2 separate regions of the Homo sapiens genome follow, and region 1 is linked to region 2. The links come from fine-mapping of genetic effects on gene expression. A gene starts in region 2. The other region holds a variant in brackets. All regions are shown on one strand. Distances are from middle to middle. Region 1 overlaps AKAP10 (A-kinase anchoring protein 10). Region 2 holds the start of AKAP10 (A-kinase anchoring protein 10).

The links.
Region 1: its variant is fine-mapped to the expression of AKAP10 in whole blood (TOPMed, PIP above 0.99).

What each region holds. Positions count from the first base shown.
Region 1 is chr17:19,940,818-19,949,157 of GRCh38, reverse strand. AKAP10 (A-kinase anchoring protein 10) reads left to right here. Exons shown (of 15, transcript NM_007202.4): 5 at 1,653-1,751; 6 at 7,248-7,332; 7 at 8,148-8,271. Among named protein-coding and RNA genes, the nearest start is that of AKAP10, 33 kb to the left of the region's middle. The variant C/G (reference allele first, on the strand shown) is at 3,877.
Region 2 is chr17:19,973,422-19,981,761 of GRCh38, reverse strand. AKAP10 (A-kinase anchoring protein 10) reads left to right here and starts at 3,934. Exons shown (of 15, transcript NM_007202.4): 1 at 3,934-4,170. The coding sequence starts at 4,083. RefSeq lists an enhancer at 2,851-3,564 and a silencer at 4,037-4,226.

The DNA.
Region 1 (8,340 bases), 33 kb after region 2:
TCTTAGAGCATGGTTTTAGTAGCTACTTAAAATTTGTTTTATCATCCCAGCATATGTGTCCTCTTGATTGTCTTTTCTCTTGTGAGATAATGGGATTTTCTGGTTCTTTATATGACAATTAATTTTGGATTGTATCTTGGACAGTTTGACTTACGTTACATGATTCTGAATCTTGTTTAAATCCTGTGGAAAATATTGAAGTTTTTGCTTTAACAAGCAGTTGACCTAGTTAGGTTCAGTCCACAAATTCTAAGCAGCATTCTGTCGGCTCTGGTTCCATCATCAGTTCAGTTTTGTATCTTATCTGCTTATGTGCCTTTCTGTGTCCAGTCTGGGACCTGGCCAATGGTCAGGTCCCAAAGCCTTTGTACACTTTTAGAAGCAGGGCCATGCACACCCAGCTCACGAGTGGCCCCGGGAGTGCACATACAACTCGACGTTTTCATGGGCTCCTTCTTTTCTGTGATGTCCCTGACACGTTCTGCCTTCTAAGAACCTCCCTTTATCCCTTTCCTGTTGTCTGGCTAGAAAGTCAGGGCTTTAGATTCCCTATACTTCAGCACACTTCCTGTAGCTATGTCAACCTCTGTGGCCACGACTTCTTCTTCTTGGGACTGCAGTTTCTCTTGTCAGAAAGTAGGATTCTTGGAGCTGCTGTCATTGCTGCTGTGGCTGCTCTGATGCTGCCTGGGAGTCGAAGGAGAGAAAGGAACAAAACAAAACAACCCAGGGGATTTCCTCCACTCTCTTTGATCCGTGAGAGCCCCCTTTCCTGTTCCTCAGACCAGAAATAGAGGGCCTGTCTTGGAACTTCTTCTTTGTGCATCTGGTGTGCAGTTTCAGCTTTTGAGTCCAGGCCAGGAGGTGCTGGACAAACTTGTCAGGAGTACGGAGGTACTGCAAGTTCTGATTACTTTTCTCAGTCCACCTGCTTCCAAGTCCTTGGATGCATTTGTCCATTGTTTTGAGTTGCATTCCATGGGAGAGACAGAAGAGTGTGCTTATTTCATCTTGACATACTTATTAGGATTTCATATCAAATCAACGGATGATATTCTCTATATTAATTTGCTGTTTTCCCTTTAGCAAGCACATTAGGAAAATAACACTTTAACACCCGCCTTTGGTGGTTTCTGTCATAATTATTAATACTTGACTTTTTTTTTTTTTTTGAGACGGAGTCTCACTCTGTCCTTTGAGGCATTGTCCCCATAAACTTTTGGTAAAGCATCAATAATTTTATCTTTCATCCACACAAGCTTCACCATAAATTTGATGTTTATTCTTCCATTTTAGCAGAATTCATGTTGCTCCAATAGGGGCTGTCTTCAAACTGATGTTTTCTCCTTCTTAGTGCCTCAGAGTAGATCCTGTTCAGATACGTTATAACAGGTTAATATGAGTTTATTTTGGTGTAAAAGTACTTTGAAATTCATGCATAGTTTTTTCATCATATGCATTTTCCATAGCTTTGAACACCCCCATGTAACTCTCCTCTTCCACAAACCAAACAATGAAAAAGCACCTTTGTGATGGAAGTTTATTTTGCAATAGGAACTCACAGTGATCTAAGCCCTGCTATTCATGAATATAATTCATTACTGGAGTCCAAGTTGCTTTTTGGTTTTTGAAGTTCTCTTCTTCCCTTGCAGGTATAGAACAAGATGCAGTGAATACTTTTACCAAATATATATCTCCAGATGCTGCTAAACCAATACCAATTACAGAAGCAATGAGAAATGACATCATAGGTAAGCAGTGCTTGAAACTATGGCAAAAAAAAAATGACAAAAAATGCACAGAACTGACAATTTTCGTTATTGACTAAGATAATTTTTTCTTAACATGGAATTTAGCAGTTCCCTTCCTAATTTGTTTTCTGAGTATTTTTTATATCGGATTATAGCTCACTTTAAAAGTTTCTCGGCTGCATTCGGTGCGAGGGTCTTTGCCTGGGCCAGATGGGCTGCAGTGTAGCGGGTGCTCAGGCCTGCCCGCTGCTGAGCAGCCGGGCCGGCGGGCGGCTACGCTAACCGGCACAGACCACCGGATGGACTGGCCGGCAGCCCCGCACCAGTGCACGAAGTGGGCGGGACAGAAACTTCTGGGGTTGGAAGTCCAGTGAGGCTAAAAGCCGGTACCAAAGTCTCTAGGCATCAGGGCTGCAGCCCAAGAGTCTCACGACCAGTGGGCAACTGGATGGCCAGACAGGTGTCTCAGTGGTGGCCTCTCCGTCTCAGGGCTTCATCCCACTTCTCAGTGGGCCTGACGTCCCTGGGCACCCTGGATGTCTACCTGCATTAGCCAGAGCCATCACATGGCCTGTGACTTGCCTTTTTTTGCCAGTTGATTGTGCCACACACAGTGTCATTTCTGTGTCATTTGGCACAGCTGGAGGTGCAAGGAGGAGGGCAGCCTCATGTCCAGTCCCAGTTTCACGTAACTTTATTCTTCTGAATAAAGACAATTTGCTAACCTTAAAAAAAAAAAAAAAAAAAAAGTTTTTCTTATATGTTGGACCCAAATTCTTAGGCTTTAACCTGAATAACAATGACAGCAAGATCAATAAATAGTACACATTTATTAAACACTCACTGTGTCCCAGACAATATTCCAAGCACTTTTTATGGATAGACTCATTTTAACTTCTAAAGAACTTTGTGGGATAAATACAGTTATTTTATAGATGAAGAAACTGAAGCACAGAGAAGTTAAGTGCTTTGTCCAGGGTAACAGCTCAGATATGGCAGAGTCAGGATTTGAAACTAGACCCTCACATACCTTAACTGCTGTGCTGTGGCAGTGTTTTTCATACTGTAGGTTGGGACCAGCCTTCTCTTATGCCCTCACCCCCTGCCAAAAAAAAAAAAAAAAAAAAAAAATATATATATATATATATATATATATATATATATATATAATATATATATATATAAAATATATATATATATAAAATATATGTATTAGTATATATGCATATATAGTATATATTATATATTAGTATATATACTAATATATAATATACATATTAGTGTGTGTATATATATATATACTAGAATAAAAAAATCAAAGTATCTCAGAGTAGTAAGGACAAACATTTCAGAAAAATGTTTTCATTATATATACATGTATGTATGTGTATGCTGATTCAACAAATATATTTCTTATAGGTTATAGCAAAATAGTTTGAAAGCTTTTACTGTGTTTTATCAGGAAGACCTTAGGTGAACGTATATTCACAGATAAAAGAGGTTATTTATTCATTCAATAAATATTACATTCTCATAAGTCCTAATATTATGTATTTTTATTCTTCAAAAAAGTTAGTATTTGTGATTTATGAAATAAGACATGTTCTTGCACTTTTAGCAGATCTGTCCCGATGTTGGGCTTCTTTAATCCTTAGTGTGGGTGCTTTGCACTCACTCACTGCTGGGGACAGCAAGACCCCTGTTAGTCTCAGCTGTGTTTCTTAAATTGGCCCACTGTACCTTCCAGTTAGCTATTCTGGGGTCCATGTCATGTTGGCTCCATTTTCCTTTTCTTTCTCCCACACAGATACCTATAACGGCTATAACATAGGCCTGGTGGCTGTTGGTGGCTTATCCCTATCTGCTTGTATTTAAGGGGTACTGTTTCACTGAGTTTTGCTGACAGATGTTGTCATGAGATTTGAGGTTTTCTGTGTTGTTGCTCTATTTTTATGTGGGAATTTGCTACTATCATCATCCCTAGACCAGCTTTTCCTAGTAATACAACAGGGATGTTCTGACTGATTAGAGTTTGCCTGTTTGAAGAATTGGTTGGCTAGTGATTTTTTTTTGAGGGGAGTCTGTACCAGTTAATAGCCTGACTGGCGTGTGGATAAAAAGGAAG[C/G]AGTTTCAAGTCAAATAAAACACTTAAAATGAAACCACACTGCAACTCTCTTTCTTTTACTTAAGCTTAATCAAATTAATGATGATGTAATCCCATGAAGGAAAAGTCTTCTGAAGGATCAAGTTGATAACATTTTGTGATCAAAGAATTTGAGAAAACCTCTATCCCAGTGTCTATCATTATATATTTTAGGATGTTAATTACCTGTGTGGCTTTAGGCAAGTCATTTTTCCTCCTTGAGCCCCATTCTTAATCCTGTCCAAATTATTTGTCTCCTCTTGCAGTTGGACTATTTTAATATAGCTGTCCTTCAAGTGAGTTTTGTTCAAAGGAGCCTTCACTTTAGCTCTTACTGTGTACCCACTTTGCATAGTCTTGTTTTAAATGTAATCCTTGGATTTTTGGTGTTGCTAACTAATTACTGTTTTTATGTGAGGATTTAGAGTGATCCAGAATCTATACTTGCACTACCTCCTTCATCTTCCACAAATGTTTGAAGTGGTAGAATTTTTAAAAACTTTGAAGGTACAGCTGACAGAATTTGCTGATGGTTTGGAAGTGAGTGGTATGAGAGGGAAAAAAAGGAATAAAGCATGACTGCATTTTTTGTTTGTTTGTTTGTTTGTTTTTGAGACGGAGTCTCACTCTCGCCAGGCTGGAGTGCAGTGGCGTGATCTTGGCTCACGGCAACCTCCGCCTCCTGGGTTCAAGCGATTCCCCTGCCTCAGCCTCCCAAGTAGCTGGGACTACAGGCGCTCGCCACCACGCCTGGCTAATTTTTTTTTTTGTATTTTAGTAGAAACGGGGTTTCACCGTGTTGGCCAGGATGGTCTCCATCTCCTGACCTCATGATCTACTCACCTTGGCCTCCCAAAGTGCTGAGGTTACAGGCATATATATAAGCATATAAAGTGTGTTATAGCATACAAACAGGTATATATATAAACATGCAGTCCACACAGCTGATAGGAATGAGGCAGTAGTGAAGGAGAAGTTGATGTAGGAGAGGGGACAGTTGTTACAGGAAAGAAGTCTGGAGGCAGAAGGGATGAATTCCAGTGCTCACATAGAAGATTGCTTAGATGGGAGCAAGGACAATTTATCTAGAGTCACAGGAAAGAATGCAGTACACGGGTAGAGATGCAGGTGAGTTGAAAGATGTGAGAGATGATGGAAATAATTTTCTGATTGCTTCTATATTCTCAAGGAAGCAGGAAGCAAAGTCCTCAGCAAAGAGAATAGAAGAGGTGTTAAATATTTGAGAAAGGAGATGTACTGTAGAAAAAAAAAAAACTCAGTTTCTCCTTCTGAACTCTCACAAAACAGAACCCTTCCATGACTCTAGTTGTGTGGGGTTTTTTCCCTGTCAGCTACCAATTCTGCAGATGATTGTTCAGTGAACACCAACTGGGTGTCCTCTAAGTCAGTTCAGTTCTCACACTGTTTACCTGGAGATAGCATCAGATCCCACAGATTGAGGACTCTGTCCCACAAGACTGCCTCCACTTCAGATGCCAGTCTCAAGTACAAGTTGTGGCCTGTGCTTCTGACTGACCTTCTATAAATTGGAGTTCCCACAGTCCCCTCCTTGGGTTCAATAAATTTGCTAGAGCAGCTCTCAGAACTCAGGGAAATGCTTTACATATATTTACCCATTTATTATAAAGGATATTACAAAGGATACAGATTGAACAGGCAGATGGAAGAGATGCATGGGCAAGGTATGGGAGAGGGGCACAGAGCTTCCATGCACTCTCCAGGTCATGCCACCCTCCAAGAACCTCTACAGATTTAGCTATTCAGAAGCCCCCCTCCCCATTCTGTCCTTTTGGGTTTTTTGTGGAGACTTCATTATATAGGCATGATTGATCATTGGCTATTGGTGATCAGCTCAACCTTCAGCCCCCTCATCCCGGGAGGTTGGTGGGTAGGGCTGAAAGTCCCAAACGTGTAATTCTGCCTTGGTCTTTCTGGTGATTAGCCCTCATCCTAAAGCTCTTTAGAGGCCACAGCCACAAGTCATCTCATTAGCCTTCAAAAGAATCCAGAGATTCCATGAATTTTAGGCGCTGTATGCTAAGAAACTGGCTAAAGGCCAGTTGCAATGTCTCAGGCCTGTAATCCCAGCACTTTGGGAGGCTGAGGCAGGAGGATCGTTTCAGGCCATGAGATCAAAACCAGCCTGGTCAACATAGTGAGACCCCCTTACAAAAAATTTAAAAATTGGCCAGGCGTAATAGCTCTTGTCTGTAGTCTCAGCTACTCAGAAGGCTGAGGATCACTGAGCCCTGGAGTTGAAGGCAGCAGTGAGCCATGATCGTGCCACTGACTCCGGCTTGGGTGACAAAGTGAGACCTTGTCTCAGAAGAAAAAGGAAAAAAAAAAAACTGGGCAAAGACTAAATAACATATTTCACAGTATCACAGATTTGTATTGTCTAGGAAAGTGAATGTAAACAGACCAGGACACTAGTATGATCCCTTGGTTTCATGAAGGTCCCACTAAAGTCATGAACACAAAGTGAGACTAGGCATCATGTTATATGGTTTTTCCAGCCATGTTTAACAGCTAGCTAAATAGCTAATTGTTTCGCTGCAGTTTATTTTAGCAGTTCCTTATTTTAGCACATTTCATGTTTTAAAATTTCTACCAATAACATTTTAATAAACTTTTTTACAGATAACTTCACAAATCCATAATTTTTTAAGTTACAATCCCAGAAATAGAATTGCTCATTGAAAGGGTATGTTCATTTTTAAAGTTATGCTAGAAACTGCCAAATTGCCTTCAGAAAAAGGTGTTTGTATCCCCACTAACACTAGTGTTAGTTTTCTTGTGCCCTTGCTCAAGTATACATATTATTAAAAACAATGTTGGGCCAGTTTACTAGATAAAAGGTGTAGTGCCTCCTTATTCTAATCTATTTGATTACTAGTGAGTATGTATGTCTTTTCACGTTGGTCATTTTATGTTTGTTCCTTTGTGGATTGTCATGTCCTTTGCTCATTTTTCTTTTGGAACATTTCTTAGTAGTTTATAAGAGCTCTTGGTATTTTAATGATAGTAACCTTTTAACTGTCATGCATGCTGCAAATCTTTTTTCTGTTTGTTTGCCTTTGTATTTTGTTTTTGGAGGGTTTCTATGTATAGGAATTAAATTTTATGTTGTTAAATCTTTTGATTTCTGCTTTTGCATATGTACTTCAAAAGACTTTCTATTTTAAGATCAAGTGTTACCTGTATTTTCTTTTAGTTCTATTTAAAACCTCTTAATTTATATGCCTGTGCTGTTAACTCCCAAGTTGATTCACAAGTGTGTATACATAGTTTGAATTTAGTGGCAATTTAATTATTTACAACTTCTTTTGCAGCAAGGATTTGTGGAGAAGATGGACAGGTGGATCCCAACTGTTTCGTTTTGGCACAGTCCATAGTCTTTAGTGCAATGGAGCAAGAGTAAGTTAGTTCATATTTTCACATTGTGCATCCTAGGGAATTTGGGTTCATTGTTAGGAATGGGCTTCACTCAGCTAAAAACAAAGTATTTTTGAGAATTTAAATATTTTGGATATTTACAAGATCATATAAAGCATACTCTATCTTGGTTAACAGTTTCTTTTAAATATAAATTATGTGAACTCTTAAAATTTTCATTTTCATTTTCAATGTTAATATTTCCTAAGTTAAAATAATTTGTTTTTAGTTCTGAAATAATTTGGGGAGTGATTGAGTCTGTAGTGATTATGACTATTAGAATTGGTTTATTTATTTAAATAATGCATGTCTTCAGATGGCTCTCCTAATTTGTTAGTTAGGCTTTAAGCTAAATGGATGCTATATAACTAAATCCACATAGATTTGTTGAAATGGCTCCAGAGGTTTTTTAGATTTATTACTGCTATGTGCCCTTAAAAAAAATCTATTCATTCTTTCACTTAACATTTATCAGAAGAGTGCTCTGTGTAAGACGTGGTTAGGCATAGTGCCAGTCTTGAAGGAAGTTACAGCCTAATAAAAGACATAGGGCATGTTGTTTGGTTACTGTAATATGAAGTGGCATGTGTTAAATGTCAGGGGAGAACTACAAAGTCATAAAAAGGTGGGAGAGATTACATACAGGTAAAGGAATCAGGAATGACACCATGGGGAGTAAGGTAGTGTTGACCTAGGCCTTTAAGATACAATAGGGACAGTATGGAAAGAGTATATTTTTCCCACTTAAACTCTTTCCTTGGTCGTTCCCTCAAATTTTCCCTTTTGTCCATGTGCAGGCACTTTAGTGAGTTTCTGCGAAGTCACCATTTCTGTAAATACCAGATTGAAGTGCTGACCAGTGGAACTGTTTACCTGGCTGACATTCTCTTCTGTGAGTCAGCCCTCTTTTATTTCTCTGAGGTAAAGTCTGCATTTCTTTTCACACTCTATTCGAGCATTCCAGCCTCTAACTATCAATGCTGGGGCCCT
Region 2 (8,340 bases):
TACCTCACTGATTTGTTGTAATTAATACAACTGGTATAAAAAGACTGTGACGAGGCCGGGCATGGTGGCTCCCGCCTATAATCCCAGCACTTTGGGAGGCTGAGGCAGGCGGATCACCTGAGGTCAGGAGTTCAAGACCAGCCTGACCAACATGGTGAAACCCCATCTTTACTAAAAATACAAAATTAGCCGGTCGTGGTGGTGCATGCCTGTAATCCCAGCTCTTCGGGAGGCTGTGGCAGGAGAATCACTTGAACCCGGGAGGTGGAGGTTGCAGTGAGCCGATATCGCGCCATTGCACTCCAGCCTGGGCAACAAGAGCGAAACTCCGTCTAAAAAAAAAAAAGAAAAAAAACACATAAAACAAAACAACACTGTGACGGTTCCCAAAAATTAGGAGCATAATTAAAGGAACTCCTGATAAAAATTAATTTTATCTTACATGTAAACTAAAATGACTTTATGAAGTTAATTCAGAAATACAATGCAGGGTATTAGTTTGCCACAGCTGCGTATTCAGCCTAATGTAATATTCTTGTTATTTTTAAATTCTTCTTTTAACTTTACTCATATGTGGATCATCAAATTTCAAAAGATTAAATGACAATACTCTTAGCAGCAAGCTTCCCTAAGCATATAAACATTTTAATGGGTGATGATTCAGAAGGTACCCGAAGAATATGTACTGCCAGATATCATTCACCCCCATATACCTGCCCGACAGACATCCCATTTTGGGACCCTGGATAAATGTGTGGGTGGAGAGAAAGATAGGAGAAAGTGGTATAAGCAAATGGCTTTGGAGTCTGATTGACAGCGATTGAAATCCTGTCTCTACCTCTTAACAGCCTCATGATCCTACATAAGTTACCCCGATCCTCAGGGCCACATCTGTAAATTGGGGGTTGCGATGGCAGCCATCTCACAGGGTCTCTTTTCGGGGAAGGGCAGGAATTATGGATTAAGTGAGCTAGTAATTGTAAAGCACTTAATACAAGGAGGGCGCATAATAAGTACTTCATAAATAATGACGGCCATTATCATGACTGAGGTGTATGCAGCTGTCGGGGATTACGGCGACTTCAGAATTTCTGGTGGGCAGGGCTCAAAGGCAGCAAATCACACTGGAAGTCGAGGTGAGGCACTGCTTCTGCACAGACTGCTTAGCTGGAGAGAATGAGGAAGGCTTAGAGGAGATTTAGAGGAACTTAGAGTCCTCCGCCTCCAACTCTGTGGGATCTGCTCCCGTGCCAGAGACATTCAGGGGATTTCTCGCACTCTCCCCTCCCCTACGTCCCTCCCGCCCCATCCAACTAACCACACAACACATACAAAATAGCCCCTGCGAGGTTCTGCACGCTGGAAGGGAACAGGAGAAGGGCGCTGCGCTTTCTTGCTGATGCCCTGTACTTGGGCCCCTGGTAGACACAGCCACTTGTCCCCTCAGCCTGCAGAGAAATCCCACGTAGACCGCGCCCGGGTCCTTGGCTTCAGCCAATCTCCCTTTGGTGGGGGTGGGATGCACGATCCAAGGTTTTATTGGCTACAGACAGCGGGGTGTGGTCCGCCAAGAACACAGATTGGCTCCCGAGGGCATCTCGGATCCCTGGTGGGGCGCCGCTCAGCCTCCCGGTGCAGGCCCGGCCGAGGCCAGGAGGAAGCGGCCAGACCGCGTCCATTCGGCGCCAGCTCACTCCGGACGTCCGGAGCCTCTGCCAGCGCTGCTTCCGTCCAGTGCGCCTGGACGCGCTGTCCTTAACTGGAGAAAGGCTTCACCTTGAAATCCAGGCTTCATCCCTAGTTAGCGTGTGACCTTGAGCAGTTGACTTTATTTTTCAGTGCCTAGTTTTCCAGATACCAGGACTGACTCCAAGGACTATTACTCATCTGGAGGGTTTAGCACAGTACCGTCGCATAGTAAATTTCCATGTCAGTTTTGGTTACCTTTCATGCACTTGCAAACATGCCATGCTCTGAAACGAAATAGGCACATCTTTTTTTTTTTTTTTTTTAAGGAGTCTTCCTCTCGCCCAGGCTGGAGTGCAGTGGCGCGATCTTGGCTCACTGCAACCTCCACCTCCCGTGTTCGAGATTCTCCTGCCTCAGCCTCCTGATTAGCTGGGACTACAGGCATGCCACGACGCCCAGTTAATTTTTGTATTTTTAGTAGAGACGGGGTTTCGCCATCTTGGCCAGGCTGGTCTAACTCCTGACCTCAGGTGATCTGACTGCCTCAGCCTCTCAAAGTGTTGGGATTACAGGCATAAGCCACTGCATCTGGCCAGAAATGAAATAAGTAAATCTTTTAACCTGCTCTAACAATATAGTGAAAAGACCATATTATTATTAGAGCAGGTTAAGGGATTTGCCTATTTCGGGTTCTAGTTATAGTCTTAAACTTGGACATTCTTGTAGAAAGTAAAAAGTTTCCTCTTCAAAGTTCCCCTTCTTGTTAAAGAATACATCATAAGTGTTAGAAGTAATAGTTTATTTTAAAGACTAACTTTCTTCAAGCCTCCTTGCTTTGTGCTAATAACTCTTTGTTAAGCCCTATCCTATGTAACTGTTGGACATGCTCACAGGCACGTTCCAGTTCACAGCCTATGCCCCTTCCTTATTTGGAAATGTTATTGCTTCCTTAAACCTTTCGGTAAGCAACTTCCTCTCCTTCTTCGTTCTTCCTTGCACTTACCTATTTAGAAAGTTTTAGGCTATTAGCAAATCGGCTATCAGTTTAAGAGTGTGAGGTCCCGCTCCAGCCAATGGATGCAGGACATAGCAGTGAGGACGACCCAAATGCGTAAGGGATAAATATGTTTGCTTTTCCTTTGTTCAGGTGTGCTCTCGACATCGTTCCATCTGCGATTGAGCACCCTTTCTGCAGAAAGTAAAGATTGCCTTGCTGGAGATCTTTTGTCTCCGTGCTGACTTTTCTTCGTGGCACCGATTATCTATTTCTAACAATTTTGGTATTTCTAACATTCTGAACAATCTTGGGCTAGTTGTCTCTTCTGGGCCTGTTTCCCCATCCGTCACATGATAAACTTCATTGGTTTAAAAACCCCAGCGAACATTTATTGAGTTACTATTACCTTCCTGCCCTCCCCAACCCCAACCCCAGGGAGCAGTTACAACCTCAGCCGCTGAGCGCACTCGCCGGGTGTTAAGAAGCACCAAAGACAGGGAGGCTTGATTGATTTTGCTTTGGGAGTAGAGGGTCAGAAGATTCACAGGAAAATGGCATTTGAGCAAGGATGATTCACTGGAGCTAGCTTTTAAATACTGGCGAGGCTTTTATGTTGCAGTCCCTTACAAAGTTGAGCATTCGCAGGGACTGCACTCCGAAATAAGCCCGCTTCCCCTTTTCATTCGCTAATGATCCAGGGAGCTGCTGGTTCCGCATGCGGCAGGTTGTGCCTTTTCCTAATCAGGGTTCTGCATCGCCTCGAACCCGCAGGCCGTGGCGGGTTCTCCTGAGGAAGCAGGGACTGGGGTGCAGGGTGAAGCTGCTCGTGCCGGCCAGCGCCTGTGAGCAAAACTCAAACGGAGGAGCAGGAGGGGTCGAGCTGGAGCGTGGCAGGGTTGACCCTGCCTTTTAGAAGGGCACAATTTGAAGGGTACCCAGGGGCCGGAAGCCGGGGACCTAAGGCCCGCCCCGTTCCAGCTGCTGGGAGGGCTCCCGCCCCAGGGAGTTAGTTTTGCAGAGACTGGGTCTGCAGCGCTCCACCGGGGGCCGGCGACAGACGCCACAAAACAGCTGCAGGAACGGTGGCTCGCTCCAGGCACCCAGGGCCCGGGAAAGAGGCGCGGGTAGCACGCGCGGGTCACGTGGGCGATGCGGGCGTGCGCCCCTGCACCCGCGGGAGGGGGATGGGGAAAAGGGGCGGGGCCGGCGCTTGACCTCCCGTGAAGCCTAGCGCGGGGAAGGACCGGAACTCCGGGCGGGCGGCTTGTTGATAATATGGCGGCTGGAGCTGCCTGGGCATCCCGAGGAGGCGGTGGGGCCCACTCCCGGAAGAAGGGTCCCTTTTCGCGCTAGTGCAGCGGCCCCTCTGGACCCGGAAGTCCGGGCCGGTTGCTGAATGAGGGGAGCCGGGCCCTCCCCGCGCCAGTCCCCCCGCACCCTCCGTCCCGACCCGGGCCCCGCCATGTCCTTCTTCCGGCGGAAAGGTAGCTGAGGGGGCGCCGGCGGGGAGTCAGGCCGGGCCTCAGGGGCGGCGGTGGGGCAGGTGGGCCTGCGAGGGCTTTCCCCAAGGCGGCAGCAAGGCCTTCAGCGAGCCTCGACCTCGGCGCAGATGCCCCCTGAGTGCCTTGCTCTGCTCCGGGACTCTTCTGGGAGGGAGAAGGTGGCCTTCTTGCGCGAGGTCAGAGGAGTATTGTCGCGCTGGTTCAGAAGCGATTGCTAAAGCCCATAGAAGTTCCTGCCTGTTTGGTTAAGAACAGTTCTTAGGTGGGGGTTAGTTTTTTTGTGTTTCTTTGAGGACCGTGGATCAAGATCAAGGAAATCTCTTTAGAACCTTATTATGGAAGTCTGAAGTTTCCAAATGTTGAGGGTTTTATGTCTAAAAGCAACACGTGAAAAAATTGTTTTCTTCACCCAGTGCTGTCTTCCAATTTCCTCTTTGGGGGGAGGGGTAGTTACTGCTGTTACTAAAATAAAATTACTTATTGCTAAAGTTCCCCAACAGGAAGACCACTACTTTTGATGACTTTGGCAAGTTTGCTAACTACTGGAACCCTAACTTACAAACGAACTACTTACATTTTTGATTTCCAGTTGTATTACCTGCCCAATGTTTACGTAGAAACAGCTTAATTTTGATTCTGGGTAACGTTGTTGCACTTCATTAAAAATACATATCCGAAGTGAGCAAGTATGGGTCTGTGGACAGCAGTGATTTTTCCTGTCAATTCCTGTTGCTTCAGATAAAATGTACCAGACAGAGGCCGGGCGCGGTGGCTCACGCCTGTAATCCCAGCACTTTGGGAGGCTTGGCGGGTGGATCACCTGAGATCGGGAGTTCAAGACCAGCCTGACCAACATGGAGAAACCCCGTGTCTACTAAAAATACAAAATTAGCCAGGGTGGTGGCGCATGCCTGTAATGCCAGCTACTTGGGAGGCTGAAGCAGGAGAATCGCTTGAACCTGGGAGGCGGAGGTTGCGGTGAGCCGAGATAGCACCATTGCACTCCAGCCTGGGCAAAAAGAGCGAAACTCCGTCTCAAAAAAAAAGTACCAGACAGAAATGGGTTTTGTTTTCTTTTTTTGTTTTGAGACGGAGTTTCGCTCTTGTTGCCCAGGCTCGAGTGCAATGGCGCGATCTCAGTCTCGGCTCACTGCAACCTCTGTCTCCCAGGTTTAATCGATTCTCCTGCCTCAGCCTCCCAAGTAGCTGGGATTACCCATGCCCCACCATGCCCGGCTAATTTTTGTATTTTTAGTAGAAACGGGGCTTCACCATGTTAGGCTGGTCTTGAACCCCTGACCTCAAGTGGGCCTCCCACCTCGGCCTCCCAAAGTGCCAGGATTACAGGCATGAGCCACCGCGGCCAGCCAGAAATGGGTTTTGGAAAAAGCACTAAACAAAATCGAACTTGGTTTCATATGACAGCTCTGCTGCTAACTGTAACAGGGGCAGACCAGTTAACCTACTTTTCTGTCTTCTGTCAGCTGAGAATTAGATGATTCCCAAAGGCCCATTGAACTCTGAATGACTTTAAATACTTCTTCTTAAGTGGGTACACGGTTTTGGTAACTGATGCCAGGTGATGAATGCATGAAAGTGCTTAATGAATGAAACCGGTAAAATAGTAGGAGGAAGCTTTATTGGTAAGGCAGGGGTATACCTAATAGCTCTCTAATTTATTGGTATTGAAGTGGTTAACTTTTGTTTTTTTAAGGGGGGAAAACATTCTAAGAATAATGAGGCAAACTGCATATTGCACAAGAGACTGTTGTCTCTATTCAACAAATACCTTTTGAGTGTCCAGAGTCTGCCAGGTGCTGTGCTAGGCCCTCACGATTGAGTAGTGAACCAGAGAATGTCCCTGCACCCATGGAGCTTATTGTCTACTGGGGTAGACAGATAATAAATAAGCAAACAAATCTTCTCTCTTCTCCCTTTCGCTCCATGTAAGTGTGTGTGTATAGGTGTATACTTACAAGTTGAGTAAAGTGTTATGAAAGATTAAGAGGAGAAATGCATTTTGGTTAGATGTTAGAGGACTCAGCAGGTGACCTTGAAACTTAGAGCTGAAGGATCAGTAGGAGGTAACTAGAGAGGCCAGGGAATCGCATGTTCAAAGGCCAGGAGGCAAGAAAGAGCATGGTGCCCTTCAAGAGAGGAAAGAAGGCTACTGTGACTGGAGCATAGATGTAGGCAAGTGTTGGGTGATTGAGAGCTCTACGGGCCATGGTTAGGTTTTATTCCTAATGCCGAGATGCCAAACATGGTGGTTCATATCTGTAATCCCAGTATTTTAGGAGGCCGAGGCAGGAATATAGCTTGAACCCAGGAGTTCAAGACCAGCCTGAGCAACATGAGACCTGTACAAAACATTTAAAAAATTGCTGGGTATGATGGTGCACACCTGTGGTCCCAGCTACTCAGGAGGCTGAGGCAGAAGGATCACTTGAGCCTAGGAGGTGGAGGCTACAATGAGCCATATTTGAGTCACTACACTCCAGCCTGGATGACAAAGTGAGACCATGTGTCAAACAAAATACAGAAAGAATATTAATTTAAAATTTTGAAAGAGGAGTGATCTGAACTTATATCTTAAAAAGATCATTCTAGGGCATGGTGGCTCATGCCTGTAATCAAGGGCTTTGGGAGGCTGAGACAGGAGGATCACCTGAGGCCAGTTCGAGATCAACCTGTACAGCATAGAGAGACTCCATCTCTACAAAAAGAAAAAATAAATAGCTGGGTGTTGTGAGTTATTCAGGAGGCTGAAGCAGAAAGATCACTTGAGCCCAGGAGTTTGAGGCTGCAGTAAGCTATGATCCCACCACTGCAACACAGTGAGATCTTGTCTCAAAAAAAAAAAAAAATCATTCTAGGTGCTTTTTGGAGGCTGGATGTGGTAAGAGTAGAAGCTGGAGATGGTCCTGTTAGGGATTCGATTCAGACTTTAAATACCATCAATGCATTGAGTCCCAAATTTACATCACTACGTTGGATCCTTGCCCCTGAATCCAGACTGGTATATCCAACTTTAGGTTCAGTTTGTATCTCTACCTGACCAATATAGAGGTGTCCAGTCTTTTGGCTTCCCTAGGCCACATTGGAAGAAGAATTGTCTTGAGCCACACATAGAGTACACTAACGCTAACAATAGCAGATGAGCTAAAAAAAAATCGCAAAACTTATAATGTTTTAAGAAAGTTTACGAATTTGTGTTGGGCACATTCAGAGCCATCCTGGGCCGCGGGATGGACAAGCTTAATCCAGTAGATACCTTCAACTTACAATATCTAAAATTTTATGCCAGATTTAGTCATTTTAAACCTGCTCATCAGTTTTTCTCAAGAAGTAGTATTTTGGCTTTTTTTCTTTTCTTTTTTTTGAGATGGAGTTTCGCTCTTATCGTTCAAGCTGGAGTGCAGTGGCGGATCTTGGCTCACTGCAACCTCCGCCTCCTGGGTTCAAGTGATTCTCCTGCCTCAGCCTCGCAAGTAGCTGGAATTACAGGCATGCGCCACCATGACCAGCTAATTTTTGGAGACAGGGTTTCACCATGTTGGTCAGGCTGGTTTTGTACTCCTGACCTCAGGTGATCTGCCTGCCTCGGCCTCCCAAAGGCTGGGATTACAGGCATGAGCCACCGCTCCCGGCTGCATTTTTGGATTTTTAGTTGCTCAGCCCAAAACTTTAGTACATCTTTGAACCTCTTCTTTCCTCCTACTCTATATCTGATCCATCAGCAAATCTGTTAGGTCTACCTCACACATATCGAAATCCTACCACGTCTCACCATCTGTGACAATTAACACCCTGGTCTAGGCAGTCATCTCTGTTAAGATTGAGTGGTTAAGGATGTCCTCTAAGGAGATGACATTCAAATCTTAGCTTAAATGTCAAGAGGGAGCTGGTTTTATAAAGATTGAGGAGGCAGCATTATTTTGCCATAGGCTTCCATTTGGTTTCCATTCCATTCTTGATACTTATGGTATATATTCAAAACAAATGCACAGAAACAGACCCAGGTATATTGGGAATTTCGGATATAGAGTTCCTAGTTGGGAAAAGATAGACTGATCTGTAAATGATGCTAGTTATCCATCATCTGGCAAAAAATAATTTCCTGCCTCCTCTCATATATCTCAGATCAACAGA